4 linked regions of the Homo sapiens genome follow. The protein of the gene in region 4 binds, or shares a complex with, the protein of the main gene of each other region. Each region holds a gene or a part of one and is shown on either strand. Other genes may lie near its edges.

Region 1 (7,047 bases), on a different chromosome or scaffold from region 4:
CGGGCTCGGTGGCTCACGCCTGTAGTCCCAGCACTTTGGGAGGCCAAGGCGGGTGGGTCACTTGAGGTCAGGAGATCAAGACCAGCTTGGCCAACATGGTGAAACCCCATCTCTACTAAAAATACAAAAAAATTAGCTGGGCGTGGTGGCATGTGCCTGTTGCCCCAGCTACTCAGGAGGCTGAGGCAGGTGAACCACTTTAACCCAGGCGGCAGAAGTTGCAGTGAGCTGAGATCAAGCCATTGTGCTCTGGCACGGGTGACAGAGCAAAACTCCGTCTTTACAAAAAAAAAAAAAAAGAGAGAGGAATCTTTTTTGAATGTTGAATTTTGTGAATGAACTATAAGATGAATTATATTGTTGGTTATTTTGCTGTAATCTCAGATCTCTTCAGAAACTTGACCTAATTATAGATCATAACTGAGAAATCAGTAAGGAGGAAAAGAGGCCATCAGAGTAACCAAAGAAATTATCACATTTCTGCAGTAAAGAGCAAAGTGTACTATAATGGCAACTTACAGAAATTTCCAACAACCAAATTCTGATTTAATTGACAGATTAATTGACTGATTTAATTGACAGATGTATTGTTAGGTGGTGCTGTATTACCAATAAATACTTACGTTTTCTGTTTTGAAGTGGTGGTTATGGAAATTGTCTTAAGCATATAACTATCTTTTGAAGATATAAATAAGGCATGGTCCTTCCCACCCTTAAGTACTTACATTTTGTAAGGGGTAAGAGATGTATATAATGTGAAGGGAACACAGGATAGGATATGTTACAAGAATGTTACACAGTGCTTGGGTGGCCCAGAGAGCTGGGAATGTTACTGCAGTGCATGGCTTGGTCGTGGTGGGTGCCATTTGCACAGAGCATTGAGAGAAAGTTAATGTAGTTGTTTGATTTGCACATATCTTTTATACAATTTGTCTTTAACATCAGGTAGTTCCAGGAGAAATACTGACTCCTTGTTATTGTTTTTTTTTTTTTTGAGACGGAGTCTTGCTCTGTCACCAGGCTGGAGTGCAGTGGAGCGATCTTGGCTCACTACAACCTCTGCCTCCTGGGTTCAAGTGATTCTCATGCCTTTGCCTCCCGAGTAGCTGGGATTACAGGCACGTCTCATCACACCCAGCTAATTTTTGTATTTTTAGTAGAGACGGGGTTTCACTATGTTGGCCAGGCTGGTCTTGAACTTCTGACCTTGTGATCTGCCCGCCTCAGCCTCTCAAAGTGCTGGGATTACAGGTGTGAGCCACCGTGTTGGCCTGTTATTGTTATCTTAAGATATGGGTGTGCTGATGGGTTTCGGTTTGGGTGATGAAACAAGTGAAAAAAATTCCATTAAAAGATTATGGCTGGGCGCGGTGGCTCGTACTTTTTTTTTTGAGATGGAGTCTTGCTCTGTCGCCCAGGCTGGAGTGCAGTGGCGCGATCTCGGCTCACTGCATCCTCCACCTCCCGAGTTCATGCCATTCTCCTGCCTCAGCCTCCCGAGTAGCTGGGACTACAGGCGCCCACTACCACGCCTGGCTAATTTTTTGTGTTTTTAGTAGAGACGGGGTTTCACTGTGTTAGCCAGGATGGCCTCGATCTCCTGACCTCGTGATCCACCTGTCTCAGCCTCCCAAAGTGCTGGGATTACAGGCGGGAGCCACCGCACCCGGCGGCTCATACTCGTAATCCCAGCACTTTGGGAGGCAGGTGGATCACTTGTGGTCAGGAGTTTGAGACTAGCCTGGTCAACATAGTGAAACCCCGTCTCTACTAAAAATACAAAAATTAGCTGGGCATAGTGGTGCATGCCTGTAATCCCAGCTACTTAGGAGGCTGAGGCAGGAGAATCGCTTGAACCCGAGATGGGGAGGTTGCAGTGAGCCGAGATTGTGCATTGCACTACAGCCTGGGCGACAAGAGTGAAACTCCATCTTAAAAAGAAAAAAAAAAAAGACTACGTGGGCCAGGTGTGGTGCCTCATGCCTGTAATTCCAACACTTTGGGAGGCCGAGGCGGGAGGATCACAAGGTCAAGATATCAAGACCATCCTGGCCAACATGGTGAAACCCTGTCTCTACTGAAAATATGAAAATTAGCTGGGCATGGTGGCACACGCTTGTAGTCCCAGCTACTTGGGAGGCCGAGGCAAGACACTCGCCTGCGAGGTGGAGGTTGCAGTGAGCCGAGATCTCCCCACCGCCCTCCAGCCTGGCGACAGAGCCAGACTCCCTCTCAAAAAAAAAAAAAAAAGATTATGTGATTGTGTTGAGGAAGAGACAGTGGGAAGAAAGAGACAACAGTCTGAGAAACAACTCACCTGTGGGCTTTAACAATACAGCCATAGTCACATGGTCATAATAGGTCATTTTCTTAAAAGTTTTTTGTTTTTTAAATAGTTGGAAGTGTTGCTGTGGAAGACCAGCCAGATGTCAGTGCCGTGTTGTCAGCCTACAACCAACAAGGAGATCCCACAATGTATGAAGAATACTATAGTGGACTGAAACACTTCATTGAATGTTCCCTGGACTGCCATCGGGCAGAGTTGTCCCAACTTTTTTATCCTCTGTTTGTGCACATGTACTTGGAGCTAGTCTACAATCAACATGAGAATGAAGCAAAGTCATTCTTTGAGAAGTATGTAAATTTTTACATATATATATATACACACATACGTAGTGTGTGTGTGTGCGTGCATATGTTTTCACATCTGTAACCACAAAAATGTAAGACTGCAACTTAAAAAGTACGTTGTGAAGGAGAGGTACCTGAGGCTATGAGAACTTAAAATGTGGGGTTTGATCTAGCTGGAGAAGTCAGAGAAGGCTTCCAGAGGAAATGATACTTGAAGTGAGATTTGAGATCTGAAGATTAGGTAGGAGTTAACCAGATGAAGAGAAGAGGGAAAAGCATGTGTAAAAGCTCTCTGGTGGGAAGGATCCTGGTAGGTACAGAGGCTGAAAGATGGCCAGGGTAGCTGGAGCAGAGAATGGGATGGGGGTGTGGTATACTATGAAGCTGGGAATTGGTTAGGGACTGGAACAGTAGGCAGGTTCTATTGTTAAAGTGAAGGCATTGAAAAAAAAGGATAGGCAGGTTTTTGGGCCATGTTGAGGGTCTTTGTTTATCCTAAGAGCAGTAGGGAGTTGTATTGGATAGGATTAGATTTGGTTGAGAGTCACTGAAAACTCATCAACAATGGCATAAATAAAAGTTTATTTTTGCCTTTATCTTAAGAAAACTAGGAAGCAGTGTTAGGATTCGATTAGAATAAGAGTAACTGAGAACCCAAACAACAGAGGTTTAAATACAATAAAAGTTTGTTTATTTTTCTCGTAAATGTGGGACATTCGGGATTGGTGTGGTGGGTTCTTCATTACCAGGGCCCCAAGCTCCCTCGGTCTTGTTGCTCTCTCATGCTTTTCATGCAATTTCCACCTTGTGGCATAAGATGGTTTTCCTGCTCTAAGCAGTCACATCAGTGTGCCAGTCAGCAGGTAGGGCACACGGAAACTGCACACACTTCTTCCTTTTATATCTTAACAGTCAGTGGCCACACCTAGCTACAAGGGAAATAAGAAATGTAGTCTTTACCTAAGTGTCTATGTGCCCAGCTGATATTCAGGTTTTCTTTTATGGAGGAAGACAGGAAAAATGGATATTTGGGGAGAGCGAAGCCTTTTTGCTACAGAGTCATTTCTGCTACAGAGTCATTAAAGGACCATGTCGTTATTAGATATATACTTTGAAAGGACCTTTATGCAGTGGGGAAAACAAATGGGGGATAGAATGACTATAGGGACAAGTTTTGGAAGTTATTGCAGTGGTTCTCAACTGGAGGTGGAATTGCTCCTTCCACTAGACCATTTGAAAATGTGTAGAGGTGGCCCGGCGCTGCGGCTCACGCCTTTAATCCCAGCACTTTGGGAGGCTGAGGCGGGTGGATCACTTTGACCTCAGGAGTTTGAGACCAGCCTGGTGAGACCTAGTCTCTTCAAAAAAATGCAAAAATTAGCTGGGTGTGGTAGCTCACTCCTGTAATCCCAGCTATTTGGGAGGCTGAGGCTGGAGAATCGCTTGAACCTGGGAGATAGAGGTTGCAGTGAGCTGAGATTGCATCTCTGCACTCTAGCCTAGATGACAAGAGTGAGACCCTGTCTCAAAAAAAAAAAAAAAAAAAAAGAAAATGTGTGGAGGCATTTTTGGTTGTCATAATGACTGGGCGGAGGAGCAGGAATACTAAATGTTCTAATATGTGCACCTAGGTAGTCCCACTTTACAAAGAATTATCCTGCCCAAAATGTTAATAGCACCCTTATTGAGAAGCACTGGACTAGGTTGTGGTGGAGGTGAAGAGAAGTAGACAAAGTCATGAGACACTTGATAGATTGGCTAGGGAGGTGAGGGAGATGGAGATATCATTGAAATCTCCAGTTTTCTGGCCGTTCTAGCTGGATAGGGGAGCCAATTCCTGACACAGAAAACCCTAGAAGAGGACTTGATTTGTCAGCCTTGGAATAATTTTGAGTTCTGATTTGAATATGCCTTTGACTCATTTAAGAAATGTCAAGTTGATAGGTAGATGATATATGAGAGCTCAGAACAGAGGTAGGGACTAGAACTATTAATTGGAGTTGTGTGCAATATTGATGGATATGGATGAGGTTGACTAGGGGAGAGTATGAAATAAGTCAGTCAGTGGGCTAGGCCCAAGGAGCTCCAAATTTAATGGCCAAGTAGAAGAGATACACAGGAAGAAAACCAGGGGAGGGCTGAGTTATAGAAGCCAAGGGAAAGGAGTATTTAAGAAGGAGGCAGGCTGGGTGTGGTAGCTCATGCCTGTAATCCCAGCACTTTGGGAGGCTGAGGTGGGCAGATCACCTGAGGTCAGGAGTTTGAGACCAGCCTGGCCAACATAACAAAACCCTGTCTCTACTAAAAATACAAAAATTAGCCGGGCGTGGTGGCAGACACTTGTAATCCCAGCTGCTTGGGAGGCCGAGGCAGGAGAATCACTTGAATCTGGGAGGCAGAGGTTGCAGTGAGCTGAGATTGCGCCATTACACTCCAGCCTTGGCGAAGAGTGAAAGTCTATCTCAAAAAAAAAAAAAGGAGGCCGTGCTTAGCAGTGTGAATAATTTTTTTTTTTTGAGATGGAGTTTTGCTCTTGTCACCCAGGCTGGCATGCAGTGGCGCCATCTCGGCTCACTGCAACCTCCGCCTCCTAGGTTCAAGCAATTCTCCTGCCTCAGCCTCCCAAGTAGCTGGGATTACAGGCATGCATCACCATGCCTGGCTAATTTTGTATTTTTAGTAGAGACAGGGTTTCTTCATGTTGGTCAGGCTGGTCTTGAACTCCCGACCTCAGGTGATCTGCCCACCTTGGCCTTCCAAAGTGCTGGGATTACAGGTGTGAGACACTGGGCCTGGCCTGAATGAGAAATGTTTAATACAAGCAACAGAGCCTGAAGTCAAGATTTATCACTTAACACAGGGTAGTAGTAATAGAGGAACAGTAGAACTTAGCACCCCTGGCTTCTATGCCATTATAGTAAATTCATTATATTAGGATGCCTAATAGGAAGTATATAAGGCAAAATGTTCTGTAGCCAAGTGCTTTTGAAAAAAAAAAAAATAAGAAAGGCTGATGACAGAACTTCTACCCTAGAAGCTAATTTCTCTTTAAAGTACTGTCATCTAAACACTCCATCCTTGGCAACATAGATACTGTCACTTAAAAAAACAAAAACATAGCCTGGGCAAAAGAACGAGATCCTGCTTCTACAAAAAGTAAACAAAAATTGAGCCGGGCATGGTGGCTCATGCCTGTAATCCCACACTTTGAGAAGCCAAGGCGGGCAGAATGCCTGAGCTCAGGAGTTCGAGACCATCCTGGCCAACATGGTGAAACCCCATCTCTACTCAAATACAAAAGATTAGCCAGCCATGGTGGCACGTGCCTGTAGTCCCAGCTGCTCAGGAGGCTGAAGCATGAGAATTGCTTGAGCCCTGGAGGTGGAGGTTGCAGCGAGCTGAGATCGCGTAAACAAAAATTAGTGGAGTATGGTGGCACAGCAGTCCTAGCTACTCGGGAGACTGAGGCAAGAGGAATCCCTGAACCCAGGAGTTTCAGGCTGCATTGAACCACTGCACTCCAGCTTAGGCTTCAGAGCAAGAACCTGTCTCTAAAAAAGAAGGAAAAACCTTTTTGCTCTTCCTGTCTCATGGTGTAGCTGTCTCCCCACATAGGAAGCTGGAACGTCATAGGGGATTCTCTGTCTTCCCATTATGGACAGTCTCACCCCTTGCCAGGACCCCATCACCACAGGAGGATAATGGGCAGTTACTGATATAAGAGGCTGAGATTTCTAATTTTATTCAAATCTTAGATCATATATTGATGAGTTGTAATGGGGTAACATAGTTAACAGTTTAGAAATCTGTTGACTATGTGCTTATCAGAGCTGGAGCCCTAATATGTTTAGTCATTGTTTTAAAAATGTTTTTGCATTGATTGCTGTTTTTAGTGAATGCCAAATATATTGTCTTTAATTTTATTTTCTTAGGAAAATTAAGCGTTGTAAAAACAAAAGTACATTTAAGTTTACTAGTTGTTATCAAGGCTAAAGGCTTTATTTTATTGTCTTTGGTAATAGTTGTTGATACCAAACAATGAGTACTTCCACTTTGTTGTTTAGTGATCATATTAAAGTATTGATATTTTAAAAATGTCTGGTACATGTTTCCAATAAATATAGGAAATCATTAAAAATGATGGGTTTTATGAGAATGTTATATATTGATTATTGTTGAGATGCTGAGTACTGTGTACATTGAGTTCATTATACTCTTTTTTATGCCTTTGAAATTTTCATAATAAAACTTTTAAAAGTGGGTTTTGAGAAACCATAACATTTAGTAAAGCAAGGGTTCTTATATTTTCAAATGTCTACCAGTTTCTTTTAAATGTCTCCATTCTAAAGAAACTGTCTACCAATGGTGGGTATATTATTTTTCACTTAGGATATTTAAGTTCTTTTCTTAAAATGT
Region 2 (7,047 bases), on a different chromosome or scaffold from region 4:
CTTGAACCCACGAGGCGGAGGCTGCAGTGAGCCAAGACTGCGCCACTGAACTCCAGCCTGGGCAACAGAGTGAGACCCTACCTCAAAAAGAAATCTTTCCAAAATCTAGTCCTATAAGAAATCCAAAACACGTTCGTAAGGAACATGGAGGCACTTGGGACCCACCGCCCTCTGCCTCGGTGTGGGGAGGAGGCTCCCAGCCAGCAGAGAGTGGGGGCCAACAACATAAAGACGCTCTCCTCGGCAAACAGCCTGTTACCTTGTAAGAAAAGTTCTTCTGCTGAGCTGTTTCTGATATTTTCTCTACAAGATTCTGTAGCCTTTGTTGCGTGGCATGTGATACATAACTTACTACATCTGGATGTAATTCCGTTATACCATGTTTTTTACCTAAAGGTCAGGCAAGAAAAACAGTATTTTAAAATCATTAAGCACAGTTCTTTCTTTACGGCTAATCTCTGATCCAGCAGTTACTGCTTTTATACAACCCAAGGGGAGCCCAGAAAGGCTGGTGGGGTGGAAGGCAGTGGTACCCATATTTTACCCAAGAACCACCACCAGCAACCATGTGGAAATCACAAACTCAGACAAAACACATGACCAGGTGTCAGGTGTGCTCACCTGAAGCTCCCATGCCCCAGCAGCGCAGCTGTTTAATAAGAACTCAGTCATTAAACACCAACGTACCTATTTCTAATATTCTTCTCTGCAAAGGCGCTTGGAGGAGGAAGGTTTCATCTTTACAGGACCGCGTTAGCGTGCCCACCAATTCAGAGTTCGTGGCTAATATTCTTGCACTTTCTTCTGACAAGTTTACTCCAGCCATCGATGCAACATCATTAATGTCATCATCGTCCCTTGAGGAAAGAAGGGAAGATCACTTTAACTGTACAAGGAATTCATCGGGAGGTGGGCTGGGGTGGTAAGGGCAGGAAACCCCACGTGGAAGGCAGGGCCGTGAGGAGGCCAGGCCTCTGTCCTCCCCGCACCTGCACCTGCTGCATCTGCCACAGCAGAGAGGGTGCCTCGCTGCTTTCCTGGAAAGCTCGATTGTTCTGCGGAAGGAGAGCTGTGAGTTGGCGCCGGGTTAACATCTACACACAGATGCGCAGGGGACTCAAGTCCAGAGAAAGCAAAGCCGGGAGCAGCGCGGGGACTTGTGGGGGTCTGATCTATGCAAAGCTTTTTAAAGCCAGAGGCAGCATTAAATTCTTTTTAAAGGCTCAGAAGTTGGAAGAAGAGTACGCACAATTTTTTCCTGAATCACCTGAAAGTTGCTAACCTGACTTTCCTCCACCCGGAACATTCTGCACGTGTTTCCTACAGACAAGGGCATCCCCTCCAGAAGCAGGATGCCATTGAGACCGGGCCATGATGAATGGCCCCTCCCCAGGCCCTCCCCCGTAGGACCCGGTCCCAGCAGCGCCTCTCCCTGCAGGACAGTCTGCATCCCAATCCCAGCTGCCACGTCTTGTCCGGCTCCTCAAGCTGGAAGGTTCCTCAGCCTCTCCTGACTCCTGGGCTGCCCCTGACACCTGGAAGGCACAGGCCAGCTGTGTGCAGGACGTCCTCTTCCAGGCTGACTTCGGCCCCCTCGTGAGGAGATGTGAGCTAAGAGTCCTGCCGGGAATTCCACATGCACGCAGCCTCCACTTGCCGCCTCCAGCAGTGGGCTTTGAACGTGAGGCCGGGGGCCTGCCTGGCGTCTCCTGGGGTCGTTGTGTCTCGGGGAAGAGCTCTACAGCAGTTCTCATGCCCAGTCCTCCTATGGGCTCCAGGTGCTCACTCAGGGTCTTGGCATCCCTGGTGGTCACGGGCTGTGGCTGGGCTGCACAGCTTAGGGCTCCAGCTGAAGGACCCGGCCATGGGAGGGAGGCTGCTCTGCTGACATCCACGTCCACGTCATGCCCATGTCCACTGCTCTCTGACACAGGACGGTCTCCGCTCATCTTGTATTTCCTTATCCCAGTCCCGCAATCAGCCTTTTCTCTCAGGAGTCCTTGTCATTTTAGTGGAAAACGGTTTTTAGAAGACAACATCTGAACACTAGGTGTGCTCAGTGTTACTGGGGCGTTACTGTTCCCAGGACCCTGCGGTGAACAAAGCTAGAAACTTACGGCAAGACCCATGGTTATCCATGCCTGCCGACACACTGAAACCCAGGGGTTTGCGTCAGCATTCCAATCCTGAGCCAGCCCACAGGGGTCACTCTCCTTTATCCCTTCTGCCAGGCCGCTGACTCCTTGACAGCAAAATACCAAGGCTTCCTGCAGCCTTGATTAATTCTTTCACCCGTGTATGTCCCTAAGTGCCCTCCCTTCTCACTGAAGTATCAGCGTCACGCTGGGCCCAGGCATGCTGGCCACCTCTCCCTGCTTGGGCTGGGACTCTGGCTCAGGCCACAGCCACTCCCCAGGCCTGCTATGCCCTGCCTGATGCCTTTAGGGATGAAGTGTCTGGGAAAGGGAAAATTCACAGTAAGACTTCCTGAAATACACACAACTCCACCGCCCCTTGATCACAACAGAGATCACTCCAAGACTCTCCCACTGCTCAGGTCCCATAAGCACCTCCCTGACTGAGGTGATGCTCAGACCACCTGCTTTCCAGGAGGCCCAGGCAAAGCACAGCAGTTATTTTTCTAGAAACAGGGCCTCACTCTGTCACCGACGCTGGCGTACACTGCTAAAACCATAGCTCACTGTAACACTGAACTCCTGGGCAGAAGTGATCCTCCTGCCTCAGCCTCCCAAGTAGCTAGGCCCACAGGCACACACCACCAAGCCTGGCTAATTTTTTATTTTTTGTTGTTGTTGAGTAAGGTTTTACTATGTTGTGCAGGCTGGTCTCAAACTCCCGGGCTCAAGCGATTCTCCCACTTCAGCCTCCTGTAGTGCTGGCACTGTAAGCGTGAGCCACTACGCCTGGAGCAGTACAGCATTTCTGAGGGTTCTGAAGTTGAATACATGGAAAGTGAAGCATTCTATACTAGGAATGCAATGAACTCAAAATACGATGTTATACTAAAAAATGAATTTCCTATTAGTTCATATAAAAATAATCAGTTGATTCGCTTTCTGGCTATGTGTATGAAGCAAAACCTCTTTGAGCCAACTGTATGGGAAAACACACTTGTGTGAACGTGAGGTCAAAGTGAGCGTGAAGCAGGAGCCTTGGAGCCCCGGCCGCCAGGGCCACGTGGGAAAGACCCGTGGGCGGGAATGGAGCAGCACGGACTCTGGACTCTTCTCCGCTCTGGCCACGCTTCTCCAACGTACACAGGCCCATTCCTTACCGAAACGAACCTCCCCCAGGCTCCTTGAGTTTATTTTTCTGTGCAGCAGCTGCTTGTGCCGAGACAGCAGAAAGGGCTTTGGTTCCAGGTAACACGGCGGGTTTCACCACAGGGACTACAAAACAAACACACAGTGGAAACCACACAAGGCTTTTATTAGATCAACTATGTGCTTTGGTGCTTTACAGGCTCAAGGGCACAGCTACCACTCTCCTAATTAGCTACAAGAAAGTTTCCAAAAACTTCATATTAATAACTCTAAATTACAGTACAAAGTGTAAGCTGTACCTCTCGAGCATTTATTTTCCTGTATTTCATCAAGGTTTTTAAAGTGCAGGAATGATTACAGATAAAGAAGCTAACCATGGAAAATACATAAAATTAAAAATCATACTGACAGTGGTGATGGTTACACAACACAGTAAATGAAATCAGTGCCACTGAACTAGATACTTAAAATGGCCAATTTTATGTAAATGTACATTTTACCCAATTAAATAAAAGCCCAATGGCAGCTGGCTCTGGGAGCAGCCCTTGGTGTTGAGCGGCCAGGGGCCCGCGAGGCCCTCACCTGGCTGCAGTGGGTTCAGCTGGATCTGCTGAGGCGTGGTGAGCATGATCCGGTTGTGAGGCTGCCGCAGGGCGACCATGGGTGTCTGCGTCAACGTCACCTGCGGGGGCCGGATCAGGGCTCCTGGCTTCGGAGGCTGCTGGATGACCTGAGGCAGAGCCAGCAGAGAATGGTGAGCATGCTCCCCGAGGGCCAGGGGCCACTCAGTCCCTAGCAGGAGGTTCTTCCCTTCCCTTCCTTTGCACCCCACGCCCCCAGTAAGAAGTCCTAGGAAGACCCCGTGTGCAGCTCAGCCCCAGCAGGCTGCAGGACCATGCTCTGGCCATGGACTCGGCCAGACCAGGGCAGGACGTGGGCGAGGGGTGCCCGTGTGAGCACAGAAGGGGCAAGCGGGAGCAGATCTGCTGCCTAGAAGCTGCCCCTGGGCATTGGTCAGGGCCTGGAGGGGGCGGGTGGCAAACTGATGCCTGCTGACCTCAGCAACCCAGGATGGAGCAGACCACTGCCCCCCAAATATTAGCAGAGGTGACATTGTTGCCTGGTGGCTACAGGTCAAGTGGTTCTATCTCATCTGAATTTTCTTTTTTCTTTTCTTTTCTTTTTTTTTTTTTTTTTGAGACAAGTCTCGCTCTGTCGCCCAGGCTGGAGTGTAGTGGCATGATCTCGGTTCACTGCAACCTCTGCCTTCCGGGCTCAAGTGATCTTACACCTCAGCTTCCCGAGCACCTGGGACCATAGGCACCCACCATGTCTGGCTAATTTTTGTAATTTTTTTTTTGTAGAGATGGGGTTTCACCACATTGGCCAGGTTGGTCTTGAACTCCTAGGCTCAAGCGATCCTCCCACTTTGACCTCCCAAAGTGCTGAATTACAGGCATGAGCTACCAAACCCAGCTCCCTTTCTGAATTTTCTGTAAGGCGGCTGAGGGCTTTTCTACTGGAGTGGGGTTAGAGTTCCTAAGTCCTGCCTGAACTTGGCCCTCAAGGGCCTCCACCCACTGCTCCCAGCATGGCCAGCTCTGTCCGCCCAGCCCCTGCTGGGCCCCTCGTGGCAGGGTCTGCCCAGCTCTGCTGTCATCCTGCCTCTCACTCTCACCTCCGGCACAAGGCAGAGATCCAAAACCTGGCAGCACTGACCATGGCCTATGCTCTGGCCCTGTCCCCAGGATGCTGGGGCCTAGAGACACTGGCATCCTTGTCAAAAGCCAATGCTCAAGTCCATAAGGCCTGGCCTCAAACCTCTGGGCCCAGGTGCTTCAGAATTTAGTCGCTACCATTTTGCAAAGGTGCCCTGGCAGGTAAACTCTATGCTGCAGAACATGTGTGGGGACCTGGGGAAGCGGCCTATAATGCAAACATGTCTCCAACGAAACAGGAACACCCACACTGGACAGGAAGAGCCTCAGGCAGCTCAGGCAATGCTCAGGCCAGGCCCTGCGGCGCAGGGAACCTGCCATCAAATGCCCGGGCCAGGCCCTGCGGTGCAGGGAGCCTGTCATCGAATCAGGGAGAAGCCTGGGTTCTGCCTCCACAGGCTTCAGGGTGCAGGCAATGGATTGGATGCCCTGGATCCCACTGGCTGTGCTCTGCAGACTCACACGTGGTCAGGAGGAGCCCAGGGAAGCAGAATGCAGAGGTGATCCTGCTGCCAAACACAGCACCTAATTCTAAAAACACCCATGCTGCTTGTGTGTGACTAAGCACCAGAGGTCAAAACTTGGCAAGAAAATGATTGCCCACAGGCTGTGCCTGCTTAAACAGAACCCACCTTTTTGGGTAAAGTAGCTCCACTGACTAGTGAACAGGGAAGTTCTGTCCTTACACTAAAGCAAGAGGCACGGCACATCTCTTTCCCTCTGGAGTCAAAAGGCAGGCAAGGAAGCCCTCTCTTTACACAGGCGCTCAGCCCTTCCCTGGCCTTTATAAGGGACACCCTCCCTCCATGCCATTTCACCCTGTTCTCCTCGCTATTATCAAGACAAAAACAAATGCAACTTGAACAGAGCACAAGAGCCAGCCCCCTAATGGCTACTCCTCACCCAGCTGGTTCTGATGTGTACACCATCACAACACATACCAGCTCATGATGAGGGAGCCCGCACCATTTTGTTGTTTAAGCTGTCTTTAGAGGAAGAAAACACCTCTGAAATTTTTTTAAAACTGCCCCTCTACGTTTGGTGAATCCCTCTGCCCATGAAAGGGAATGTGCTCAAAATGTAATTCTTCTGGCAAAGACATCCTTTCTCTAGCTGCAGAGCAAACGTCATGACTATAAAACCAAGAAAGCCAGATCCAAACTGCACATAAGTGAACCGCTATGAGCAGCCGCGGCTTCGCCTCCCGGGACTCACCTAAATCCACCCTGTGCTGTGAGCTGCTACCCTGCCTCCAGTCTCCTGCCCACCTGTCCCACGCAGGTGCCCGTGTCTTACGCTTGGACCGCTGCTCCTAATCCAAGAGAACATCTATCTACAAGATCCTCTAAAAGCACGCTGCATTCATTTACACCAGTAACATCCCCAGACAAGGCAGGGCGGGGACGTGCCGGTGGTTCAAAGCCAACTCAACTATTTCATTTTACTGAGACAAAATACAACATCCCAGGGCCTCAACCTCTGGTTTCTATTTTAACTATTTAAGGTAATACCCAAGCTTCCTCTAGCAGGAGGCTTCCTGCATGCTTGGAAAAGGTTTCTGAGCCGTGGCCAATTTATCTAAGAAGCGGGCGGGAGCAGAGGCACGGTGGGCTGTGCAGACCAGTCAGGCGCCCCTTCCATACCAGCGGTGTGGGTTGCCCCTGCTTGCCGACGCCGACCTGCGTGGGCTGCGTGAGGCTGAGCACAGGGGGCTGGAGGGCACTGGTCACGGTGGCCGCCGTCTTCCCGGCCGTGCGCTGGACCGAGCTACTCAGCACCACGGCCGTGAGCGCAGTGGTGGCCTGCGAGGTGGGCGGTGGCGGCTGCTGCTGGCTCTGCTGGATGAAGGCCGCGGAGTCGGGGGTCAGCTGTCTCAAGGCGGGTAAGCTCCTCTGGGTGGAAAGACAGACACGAGGGGTCAGGCGGCTGCTCATGCGTCGGTTTTCCTTGCTTAAAAATTCAGAAATATCAACTTTTACAGAAAGCTTTTGAGCTAAGTAAGATGGATCTTGGCCCTCACGGCAGCATGTCTGGATGTCAAGGGC
Region 3 (7,255 bases), on a different chromosome or scaffold from region 4:
TGGTCTCATTTGCTCAGAAATCTTTTACTAGCTTTAACCAGAGTCACCTCTAATTAGTGTAACTAGTGCCTCCAGATCCTCCCTGCCCCTAGGAGTCACAGGAATGAGAGGTTGGGAAGCTATTAGGCATTTACCCTCTCTACAAAAGACACAGAAGCAAGTCAAGGTGAGCCAGCTCTCTAACTCTAGGGAATAGAGAGTTAACACACTTTATGGCAGAGACAGGACACATCAGCAAGAGGCCCAAAGTAGAAGCATTGTGCTCAACAGGTTTCCTAGTCTTGCTTAACTATATTAACTATATGGCAGTTAAATCCTCAGCAGAATTTCAATAGTCTCCGAGTGAGCGCACTAAGAATAACTTGACCTGAGGCCGGGCAAGGTGGCTCACGCCTGTAATCCCAGCACTTTGGGAGGCCGAGGCCGGCGGATCATGAGGTCAAGAAATTGAGAACAGCCTGGCTAACATGGTGAAACTCCATCTCTACAAAAAATACAAAAATTAGCTGGGTGTGGTGGCGCTTGCCTGTAGTCCCAGCTACTTGGGAGGCTGAGGCAGGAGAATCGCTTGAACCCAGGAAGGCGAAGGTTGCAGTGAGCTGAGATACTGCCACTGCACTCCAGACTGTGGACAGAGCGAGACTCCGTCTCCAAAAAAAAAAAAGAATAATTTGACCTGTGTTTGAGGGTGGGAGATATGAGAAACTTCTCACTTTAGCAGGATATGCTGAGGGTTAAGATATCTCTGGAAAATCTCCAAATGCTATGTCATCAACTCATTAAAGACAGAGGCATCTCCAAACCTGTACAGTCTTGTCACCTCTCAGACATCAGAACTGCAGAGTGGCAAATCCAGGTAAGATTCAAAACCCAATTCATGCATTCACTGTACATTTATTAAACACCTGTAAGTTGTCAGGCACTGATCTAGGGACTGAGAATATAAACATGATATATGGAAGTATACCCATCCATTATTATTTACCTTTATTATGCCCAACCTCTCAAGGGTGCAGGCAGGAAGTTCTTCTCCTGTTGCCTAAGGAGCACCAAATAAGTCTCCATTCTCATTTCTGTGCCTCTGATCATGGGGTACCCACCTGAAACATGCCCATCATAACTCACCTACCCAAATCCTCACATCCTTCAAGGCCAGCTTAAGTCTCCCTCCTTTTGGAAGCCCTGACTTCCACTCCATCCCTAAATGATGTCTCTGTTCTCTGAGCTGCTAGCAATTACAGCGAGTAATACCATCCACCATCCATTTATTTAGAAATTTATTGTCCTGCAACTGATACTTTTATTTCTTCAACAAATCTTAAGTACCTACTTATATTGCTTTTTAAAATCTTCCTGTAAAGACCTGGGTTGGTACTCAGTGCTTAATATCTATTAATAACAATTTATTAGCGCCTTAGGCTTATATGGTCCAAGCTCACTCAAACTGAAGTTACATAAAGTAATGGGGAACAAAAGCTAACGAAGGCATTTCTAAATGAACTTCCACTTCTTAAAAACCTCAAAAGAACAAGGAAGGAAAAAGAAATCAGGCTATGAAAGCGCTGCTGAACTAACACATTTAACTCACACTAACAAAGCACCCCCAATCCCCCTTCGAAGCCACACAAAACTGATGTTTTTCCCTCGGTCCTTACAGCTCCAGATTGAAGCGTTTAACAACAGACCTTGGAAAAGTTTACAGCATCCTTCGGTTTCCTAAACAAGTCTCTCTGCCTTTATTTCTAGATGAATAAGCCCCTGGATGAATCCTGCATATGCCACTTAGACTAATCCAATGAGGTTCACTACAAGGAACTACAATTTGAACTTCAAGCACAAGAGAGGCTCAAAGACGAACATCTTGAAAATGATACATCCAGAGGCAATTTTAATAAAACAAAAGCGAGGGGCCAGGCGCGGTGGCTCACGCCTGTAATCCCAGCACTTTGGGAAGCCGAGGCGGGCGGTTCCTGAGGTCAAGAGTTCGAGACCAGCCTGGCCAATATGGTGAAACCCCGTCTCTACTAAAAATACAAAAATTAGCCTGGTGTCGTGGCGGGCGCCTGTAATCCCAGCTACTTGGGAGGCAGAGGCAGGAGAATCGCTTGAACCCGGGAGGCGGAGGTTGCAGTGAGCCGAGATCGCGCCACTGCACTCCAGCCTGGCTGACAGAACAAGTCTCCGTCTCGAGGGAAAAAAAAAAATAAAGCGAGGTCCTGTGTAGCCTGGTGGAAGGTTCCAAGTTCCTCAGAGAAGAAAATCAATAGAATTTCCTCCAGAGGAGCCTCGAGATTCTACAAGGCGTAGGAGTTTCTGCAGGAGGTGAGGGAGATCTCATATATATATATATAAGATATACATATTTGCTCTTAATTGGCTTTTGTGAGCTACGATAGCTGGCACCCTGTAGCGAGCGAGAGTGAACCCTGGCTGTGCCATGCGGCGGAGGCTGCCACCTGGGCACTCCCACCATTCTTCGCAGCCGGGTCAGAACGGGAGACCAGGCGAGCCCGGAGCAGCGTGGACTCGGACCTGCGCGCCCTCCGGTACCCTGGCCCGCGGGCCGCCTGCCTCGCCCCGGGCACGCCACAAGCCCACCCCGCCCGAGTCTCAGGACCCCCGATCTCTCTGGGGACCCAAGAGACGGGTGGGGGAGAAAGGGTCTGCAGGCAGCGGCCCGGCCCTGGCGCGTACCCACCTGAGCAGACTGGAGAGGGGGTGGCTGGAAGAGCCGAGGCCGCCGCCGCCGCCGCCGCTGCCGCCGCCGCCGCCCCCAGAGCCACCGCCGCCGCCGCCCCCAAAGCCTGAGGAGAGCCGCTTCCCGGACAGCAGCTTCTCCACCGCCGGGAGGTGCCCGGTGCGGGCCGCCTCCAGCAGCTCCTGCTCCTTCCCCATCCCCAGGGCCGCCACCCGCTGGACCCCCTCCCCGAGGCTGCAGCCGAGCCTGCTCGGGCTCCCAAACTTTCCGTCTCCGGGCAACGCACCCCCCAAACCGGCTGGGGACACCACCCCCTCCCTGCCTTTTCCCCACGAGCGCGTCACTTCCGGGATCCGGCGTCACGCGTCACCGCGCCCCCGCGCCCCGCCCCCTAGCTCACCTAGCTGGGCGGGGCTCCGCGGACCAGCGCAGGTGGACTTTGCTGTGCCGAGACACGCCTCTCGGGGCATGGGGACAGCGCCTTGTGGGCCCCCATTATGCAGGTGGAAAGGGACAAACAGGCCCACCTGTACGCGCCTCCCGAAGTGCGCTCCTTCCCCAAAGGTTTTGGGAGCTCCTGGGACAGGAAATACGGTAATTCGTCCAGGCAGCGTAGAAACAAAGAGATAAATGTAACGCGCACCTACATTTCCAAGTCCATTCTTTCAGCACGCATAAATTAAATATGTAATAGGTGCGGGGACCTAGTCATACCCAGGTGAATAAAACGCCCTCCCCCTCGTATCTCAATGAGGGAAGAGAAGAAAATTTTAAAACAGAAATATCCTCACCACTTCATCCTCCCAGTACGTGAACTAGTTCATTAAAGTGAAACGTTCAAAGGAGACACCTTCCTCTCTTTAGGCTTTCCTCTTAGTTTTAATGAGATTAACCAAACTGATAGAAAAGTGTCAGACTTGTAAAAACAAACCTCAATCTTCAGTACTGGCGAACTGAAAAAAATCATTTAATTGGGTAGAAACTATGTGTGTTTTGTTCCCTGGTACTAGCACTGTTTCTAAATCGAAGTAGGCAGTCAATAGTTGTGGATGAATAAATGAATTGGATAAATTCTGCTCGAGCTATATGACTTTTTGTTGTTAAGGTGCTTGCGGAATGGAGGGGAAATGCTAGCAATTCTATGTACACACAGGCCCGCGGTTTCGGGCCAGTTGAAATATACAAGGTTGAGTCCTTGCCTGAAAGTTTACCAGTCCCGGGGAGCCTCATTCCACGACACCGCCATACAACGGAACTGAGTTTTCTCCCAGTCCCCCAACTTTACTCTGAGGGGTTAACGAAGGGATTAACTGACATTGCATTTTTAGACAGGCGAAAAGGAAAAAGTTATTTAGTAAACAAAACTGCGCTCCTTCACAAGTGCTGGTTTCCTAGCGAGGAGGATCCATAGTCTGAGCTCTTTACGTCCAATTTTCCCGCTTCCCACTGTCGCCAAACCAAAGTTAAAATGAGTCCTCTAGTCCTCTACGCGCGCCTCAAAATGACCCCTCAGGAGAGCGGTAGGGGTGATGTCATCGCTGCGCGACGACAGGAAGTAAGATCCTGGCCTGTGCAGCTCGGGTTTCCGAGCTTCTGCCTCAGGCATCTCCGCGATCTCCTCTCCCCTCCAATCCTATCCGTGATGGACGATGCCCACGAGTCGCCCTCCGACAAAGGTGGAGAGACAGGGGAGTCGGATGAGACGGCCGCTGTGCCCGGGGACCCGGGGGCTACCGACACCGATGGAATCCCAGAGGAAACTGACGGAGACGCAGATGTGGACTTGAAAGAAGCTGCAGCGGAGGAAGGCGAGGTAGGAAGAGATGTACTGATGAGGCTGAAGGAATACCCAGAGATTGTGTTACTGGCTGCTCGCCGGGCTTCTGGTTAGTCCCTAACAAGTTACGAGAACTCGAACTCACCAGAATTCCCTCCAGATCGTTAATCTTGAGGGGGAAGAGAGGGGACGACCAAACAAAACTCCAGTGCTGGTTCGGTTCCAGAGGCTCAAGCACTGTTAATATTTTTAGTCTTGTCTTTAGGGATTAAAGCTACTTCTAAGGGAGTTATAATAGCCCGTTGGCTTTGGTGGTGAGGAAATTGGGATCCAATGTCACACTGAGACGTAGTGCAAGAGCTAAAACCCAGGATTCGTAGCACCCCTTTCACCGCAATATGGTTCCTCTTAGATGTTAAGACAACTTTTGTCTTTATAGGAAGGAGGGTCGATCAGACCTGTCAAAGGGAGATAGACTTTTATATCGAAAAGTCTATATCGATATAGACTTTTATATCGAACACGATTTAACCTGAGAGTCGCCCGGGCTGGAGAACAATGGCGCGATCTCTGGCCCACTGCAACCTGCGCCTCCTGGGTTCACGCGATTCTCCTGCTTCAGCCTCCCGAGTAGCTAGGATTACAGGCGCACACCACCATGCCCAGCTAATTTTTGTATTTTTAGTAGAGACGGGGTTTTACCATGTTGGCCAGGCTGGTCTGGAACTCCTGACCTCGTGATCCGCCCGCCTCGGCCTCCCAAAGTGCTAGGATTACAGGCGTGAGCCACCGCACCCGGTGATCAGGGACCCATCAATTGGGTCTGGTGTTTTTATGCTACAGAGAGTTCAGCAGTGTTGCCTAGCTGAGTATCGGTCAGGACCAGAAACTCATCGTTCTCAGGATTACATTTCTAGAAGTAGAATCTTGGGGTCTTACAGCTAGAAGGGATTTAAGAGATCGTGGGTGAACAGTAGATTAGATGGAAATAGCCTTTCAGAGCATAAAGTTGCATCAAAATGTATAAAGTACAAACTTTTAGAAAAAGAGAAAATTTGTCTGGGCGTAGTGGCTCACGCCTGTAATCCCAGCACTTTGGGAGGCCGAGGTGGGTGGATCGCCTGATGTCAGGAGTTTGAGACCAGCCTGGCCAACATGGCGAAACCCCGTCTCTACTAAAAATACAAAAATTAGCTGGGCATGGTGGCGGGCGCCTGTAATCCCGGCTACTTAGGAGGCTGAGGCACAAGAATCGCTTGAACCTGGGAGGCGGAGATTGCAGTGAGCCGAGATCGCACCACTGCACTCCAGCTTGGGTACCAGAGACTCCGTCTCGGAAAAAAAAAAAGAAAAGAAAAGAAAGAAAAAGGAAAAGAGAACATTTGACAAAAGTATTTTAAGGCAGGTTTTTTGTTTGTTTTTTGTTTTTTGTTTTTTGTTTTGAGACCGAGTCTCGCTCTGTTGCCCAGGCTGGAGTGTGCAGTGGCGTGATCTTGGCTCACTGCAAGCTCCTTTAAGGCAGTTTTTGTTTGTTGAGACAAGGTCTCACTCTGTCACCCAGCCTGGAGTGCAGTGGCACAGTCTCTGCCTCCTGGGCTCAAGCAATCCTCTTATCCCAGCCTCCCCAGTAACTGGGACTGCAGGCATGCTGCACCACGCTCATCTAAAGTTTTTGTTTTGTTTTGTTTCGTTTTTGAGACAGAGTCTCGCTCTGCCGCCCAGGCTGGAGTGCAATGGCGCAATCTCGGCTCACTGCAACCTCCGCCTCTCAGGCTCAAGCGATTCTCCTGCCTCAGCCTCCCCAGTAGCTGGGATTACAGACACGTGCCACCGCGCCCAGCTAATTTTTGTATTTTTAGTAGAGCTGAGGTTTCACAAGTTTCACAAGTTGCCCAGCCTGGTCTTGAACTCCTGACCTCATGATCCATCCGCCTCGGCCTCCCAAAGTGCTGGGATTATAGGCATGAGCCACCGCACCCGGCCAGCTAAAGGTTTTTTAAATATTGTTTTGGTAGAGACAAGGTCTTATTATGTTGCCCAGTCTGGTCTCCAACTCGTTGGGCTCAAGCAATCCTCCTGCCTCAGCTTCCCAAAGTGCTAAGATTACAGGTGGCAGCCACCATGCCTGGCCAAGAAGGAAACTTTAAAACAGGTGTCAAGGACAGCAAGGATTTGAATAATTAGCTTAGTACACAGAGGGCTCACTACATATCTAAATTTGCACCGAACAGAGGATAAAATTATGTTGTTTCTGAAACACTTTTAAAAATCGATCATGTACCAGACCACAAAGAAAAATATGAACTCTTAAAAGTAGAAATCATAACAGGCCACATCTTGTTAATGTAATGCATTAAACTTGAAATTAACTACAAAAAGCTTCTCCCCCACCAAAAAAGAACTAACCCCCTGGAAATTTTAAACTATTTTTTAAATAGCCTTTAGACTAAAGAAATTAATAGAACACTTTATCAAAGTATATGGGATTTGGCCAAAGCTTTATTTAAAGAAAAATATATAGCCTTACATATTTTTATTAACAGCCAGAAGATATTGCAAATAAGCACCTAACTCAAGAAACCAGAAAAAGGGCCTAGTGGAGTGGGTCACGCCTGCAGATCTAGCTACCTGGCAGGCTGACACAAGAGGATCACTTGAGGCTTCAGTGAGCTATGATCCAGCCTGGGCAACAGAGCGAGTCTGGGGGAGAAAAAAAAGATAAAGAACAAAATAAATCAGAAGAATGTAGGAACAAGGAGTTAATAAGGATAGAAGTAGAC
Region 4 (3,175 bases):
ATCAGACTACATTGGGTTCCTTAATTTAAGGCACTATGATGAACACCTTCTGTGCTGGGTGCTAGAGTCCAGAATCTGACATAATCTCTGCTCTCGATACAGCAGATTTGTGGCAGATTGAAAAGTAGGCCGGGCGCGGTGGCTCACGCCTGTAATCCCAGCACTTTGGGAGGCCGAGGCTGGTGGATCACGAGGTCAGGAGTTCGAGACCAGCCTGACCAACATGGTGAAACCCTGTCTCTACTAAAAATACAAAAATTAGCCAGGCGTGGTGGCGTGCGCCTGTAATCCCAGCTACTCGGAGGCTGAGGCAGGAGAACTGCTTGAACCCGGGAAGCAGAGGCTGCAGTGAGCCAAGATCATGCCACTGCCCTCCAGCCTGGGCCACAGAGCAAGACTCTGTCTTAAAAAAGAAAAAGAAAACAAAAGTTGAGAGGTGAGCAAATAGTGAAAGTGAATGTACACCAGTTCTACAAGGTTGGCTGAGATAGGAAGGCAAGAAGAGCAGTAGTGATGGTGACTCAGAGTGGCAAAATCAAATTCTTTATTTTTTAAAATTGGTGGAGTTTAGTTTTTAGGTTTGACAGGTCAGGATCACCTGTCATCTTAGTCTAGACTTCACTGGTTCCCATTAGGTTCTACACTATTTCTCTTTAATACTTTGCAAAGTCATTTGTTCCATTTTTCATATAATTCTCAAAGGGTACCCTGATAAAGACAGTAAGCACTGTTACTGTTTTGTTGGTGAGGAAATAGAGGCTTAGGCAGTTGCCCAGTGGGCCTAGCATCTAGGAAGACTCTAGCTGAGTCTAGGAAGACTCTAGGAAGATGCTGCCAGAAGGAAAAGGGGTGGAATTAATGAAACTGGAAGGTTGTGGTGCTGGTTTGAGGAGTAAAGTATGGGGGCCAAAGTTGGCTATATGCTGGATATGAAGAGGGGGTTAATTCCTTGCAGGTCTTCTTGAGATAGAAGTCCAGGCCCTGAGGTGGCAGGCAGCCTGATAGTGAACAGAACCCTTGTGCCCATACTTTTGCCCCCCGAGTTTGGCCTGCCCTGGCGCCACAGGCAGTACTGGAAGCTGATAAGTCAGGGCACAAATTAAAGGTCTAGGAGGCAAGACCAACTGATAAACAGGGGGCGTAATGCTTCCTGGGGATAATCCCATCTCAAGGAAAAGCTTTTGGCTATTTCTGTGTTAGCAGATGCGAGCAAGTTGTGGAGGAAAATGATTAACTTAAAGGCCACACCCCCCAACCCCTTCAGCTGTACGGGCATCTGGATGGCCAGACCCCTGATCAGCTCCAGGCCTTGCCTAGAGTCGCACACAGGAAGTGACCACAACACTAAGGCATCCGGAGGCTGCTGGCCCAGACCACGGACCGCCCCCTGCTCCGCCCCTTGAATCTGCAGCCCCGAACTGGAGGGAATTTCCTTTTATGGCCCCAGGCTGTCAGGCAGGCCCAGCTCCAAACCAATTGTTTTGTTTTGTTTGTATACTTTACTTTATAAAATACATATTTCTTGGAAAAGAAAAAAATCAGGTATAGTTTTAATCCCAAAACAGCCATTCTCATTTTCTTCTGTTTTCTATGCACAGGATTGCTAAGTAGGGGAATCCTGCTTTGCATGGTGGTTTGTTATCTACCTCATCAGTAGTCAAAAGCATTTCTCCTTTTCAACATAAACCCTTCCAAAACATCATTTAAATTCCATTCCATTTTTAGATGTTAGTTTCAGTACCAGAGCCAAATAGTAAGTTTGTTCCCTCTTCTATAAGTTGTGGCCTGCCTTCTCCAAGACACCCTTCTCCCCCACTAACATGCACTGAACAGCTGCTGTCAATCCATTCCCTCAAGAAACTTAAAGGTCTAACAGACAAGACAGTCCATTAACAGATTTTTACAATCCAGTGCAACAAGTGCTGAAGTAGGGGGACATATAAGATGTGGTGGAAAACAGAAAGGACCAATAGATGTTGCAGAAGGGGTGCAAGAGAAACCAGGGGAAGAGCACTACCACCTAAGGAAATGAGATGTGGGATATGGTGAAGATAACACATTTTTTTATAGAGGTTGTTGAGATATCTAGGTGGTTGGTTTGGTTTGAAGCTCAGGGGAAGGTCTGAAATGGACAGCTTTGGGAGTTGCTGGCATGAATGAGAATCAAAGTCCTAGAGAGGTAAGCCTTCCCAGAGAGTATGTAATTATCAGTTTTTCAGGAATCAAAACCTTTGCCCCATCCCACCTCCAGCTCAATGACCATTGCCCCTTCCTCAAAGGGACGATCATGGCTTCTCCCCCTTGCACTGGGCCTGCCGAGAGGGCCGCTCTGCTGTGGTTGAGATGTTGATCATGCGGGGGGCACGGATCAATGTAATGAACCGTGGGGATGACACCCCCCTGCATCTGGCAGCCAGTCATGGACACCGTGATATTGTACAGAAGGTACGTACAAACTCCTTCGTCATCCACATCACATACATGCCATGAGGGTCAGTCACAGGCACTGTAACATACAGTAGAAAGCATGTGTGCTCTTCCCCCTTTTCCCATGCCCTGACACCAGTATCTCATTTGGAACTGACTGTACTTTCTGCCTCTTCTTTTTGTCTGGCCATGGGGTCCAGCTATTGCAGTACAAGGCAGACATCAATGCAGTGAATGAACACGGGAATGTGCCCCTGCACTATGCCTGTTTTTGGGGCCAAGATCAAGTGGCAGAGGTGAGTACTCAGCCCTTAATTCCTGAGATGGGTAGGAAGTAAAGTCTGAGCCTTGGTGGGAGATTTTGGAACCCTCAACCCATTCTGTCAGTACTACTGTGTGACACTTACAGGATTAAGTTCTACATTTGTGCATTCATGGTTGGTTCAGTGACTGCCAGCGAGGTAGCAGTGGCTCTCATCATAATGGCCTTTTCATTCCAGGACCTGGTGGCAAATGGGGCCCTTGTCAGCATCTGTAACAAGTATGGAGAGATGCCTGTGGACAAAGCCAAGGCACCCCTGAGAGAGCTTCTCCGAGGTCCATCTCCCCATCCCCTAGCTTGTGTCCTCTCGTCCCTTCCCACCTGTCTTCTCCCTCTGTACCACAGCTTAGGTTGTTTTTCTTCCCTAGAGCGGGCAGAGAAGATGGGCCAGAATCTCAACCGTATTCCATACAAGGACACATTCTG

What was found.
Region 1: TAF10 (region 4) and TAF5 share a complex: the UniProt entries of both Homo sapiens proteins name them as parts of the TFIID basal transcription factor complex.
Region 2: TAF10 (region 4) and TAF4 share a complex: the UniProt entries of both Homo sapiens proteins name them as parts of the TFIID basal transcription factor complex.
Region 3: TAF10 (region 4) and TAF11 share a complex: the UniProt entries of both Homo sapiens proteins name them as parts of the TFIID basal transcription factor complex.

The regions. Positions count from the first base shown.
Region 1 is NC_000010.11:103,370,962-103,378,008, forward strand, and holds part of TAF5 (transcription initiation factor TFIID subunit 5), read left to right. Parts: intron 1-2,396; coding exon 2,397-2,634; intron 2,635-7,047. UniProt on the Homo sapiens protein: The TFIID basal transcription factor complex plays a major role in the initiation of RNA polymerase II (Pol II)-dependent transcription.
Region 2 is NC_000020.11:61,999,865-62,006,911, forward strand, and holds part of TAF4 (transcription initiation factor TFIID subunit 4), read right to left. Parts: intron 6,895-7,047; coding exon 6,646-6,894; intron 4,015-6,645; coding exon 3,867-4,014; intron 3,411-3,866; coding exon 3,296-3,410; intron 2,765-3,295; exon of another isoform or gene 1,950-2,764; coding exon of another isoform or gene 1,283-1,949; intron 1,056-1,282; coding exon of another isoform or gene 883-1,055; exon of another isoform or gene 864-882; intron 858-863; coding exon 688-857; intron 391-687; coding exon 260-390; intron 1-259. Other genes in the region: uncharacterized protein LOC105372704, read right to left, coding at 883-1,055, 1,283-1,949. UniProt on the Homo sapiens protein: The TFIID basal transcription factor complex plays a major role in the initiation of RNA polymerase II (Pol II)-dependent transcription.
Region 3 is NC_000006.12:34,885,043-34,892,297, reverse strand, and holds the start of TAF11 (transcription initiation factor TFIID subunit 11), read left to right. Parts: upstream 1-4,255; 5' UTR 4,256-4,340; coding exon 4,341-4,511; intron 4,512-6,266; exon of another isoform or gene 6,267-7,255. Other genes in the region: ANKS1A (ankyrin repeat and SAM domain-containing protein 1A), read right to left, coding at 2,699-2,895. UniProt on the Homo sapiens protein: The TFIID basal transcription factor complex plays a major role in the initiation of RNA polymerase II (Pol II)-dependent transcription.
Region 4 is NC_000011.10:6,605,767-6,608,941, forward strand, and holds the end of TAF10 (transcription initiation factor TFIID subunit 10), read right to left. Parts: coding exon of another isoform or gene 3,118-3,175; 3' UTR 3,025-3,117; coding exon of another isoform or gene 2,928-3,024; 3' UTR 2,724-2,927; coding exon of another isoform or gene 2,628-2,723; 3' UTR 2,446-2,627; coding exon of another isoform or gene 2,280-2,445; 3' UTR 528-2,279; downstream 1-527. Other genes in the region: scaffold protein ILK, read left to right, coding at 2,280-2,445, 2,628-2,723, 2,928-3,024, 3,118-3,175. UniProt on the Homo sapiens protein: The TFIID basal transcription factor complex plays a major role in the initiation of RNA polymerase II (Pol II)-dependent transcription.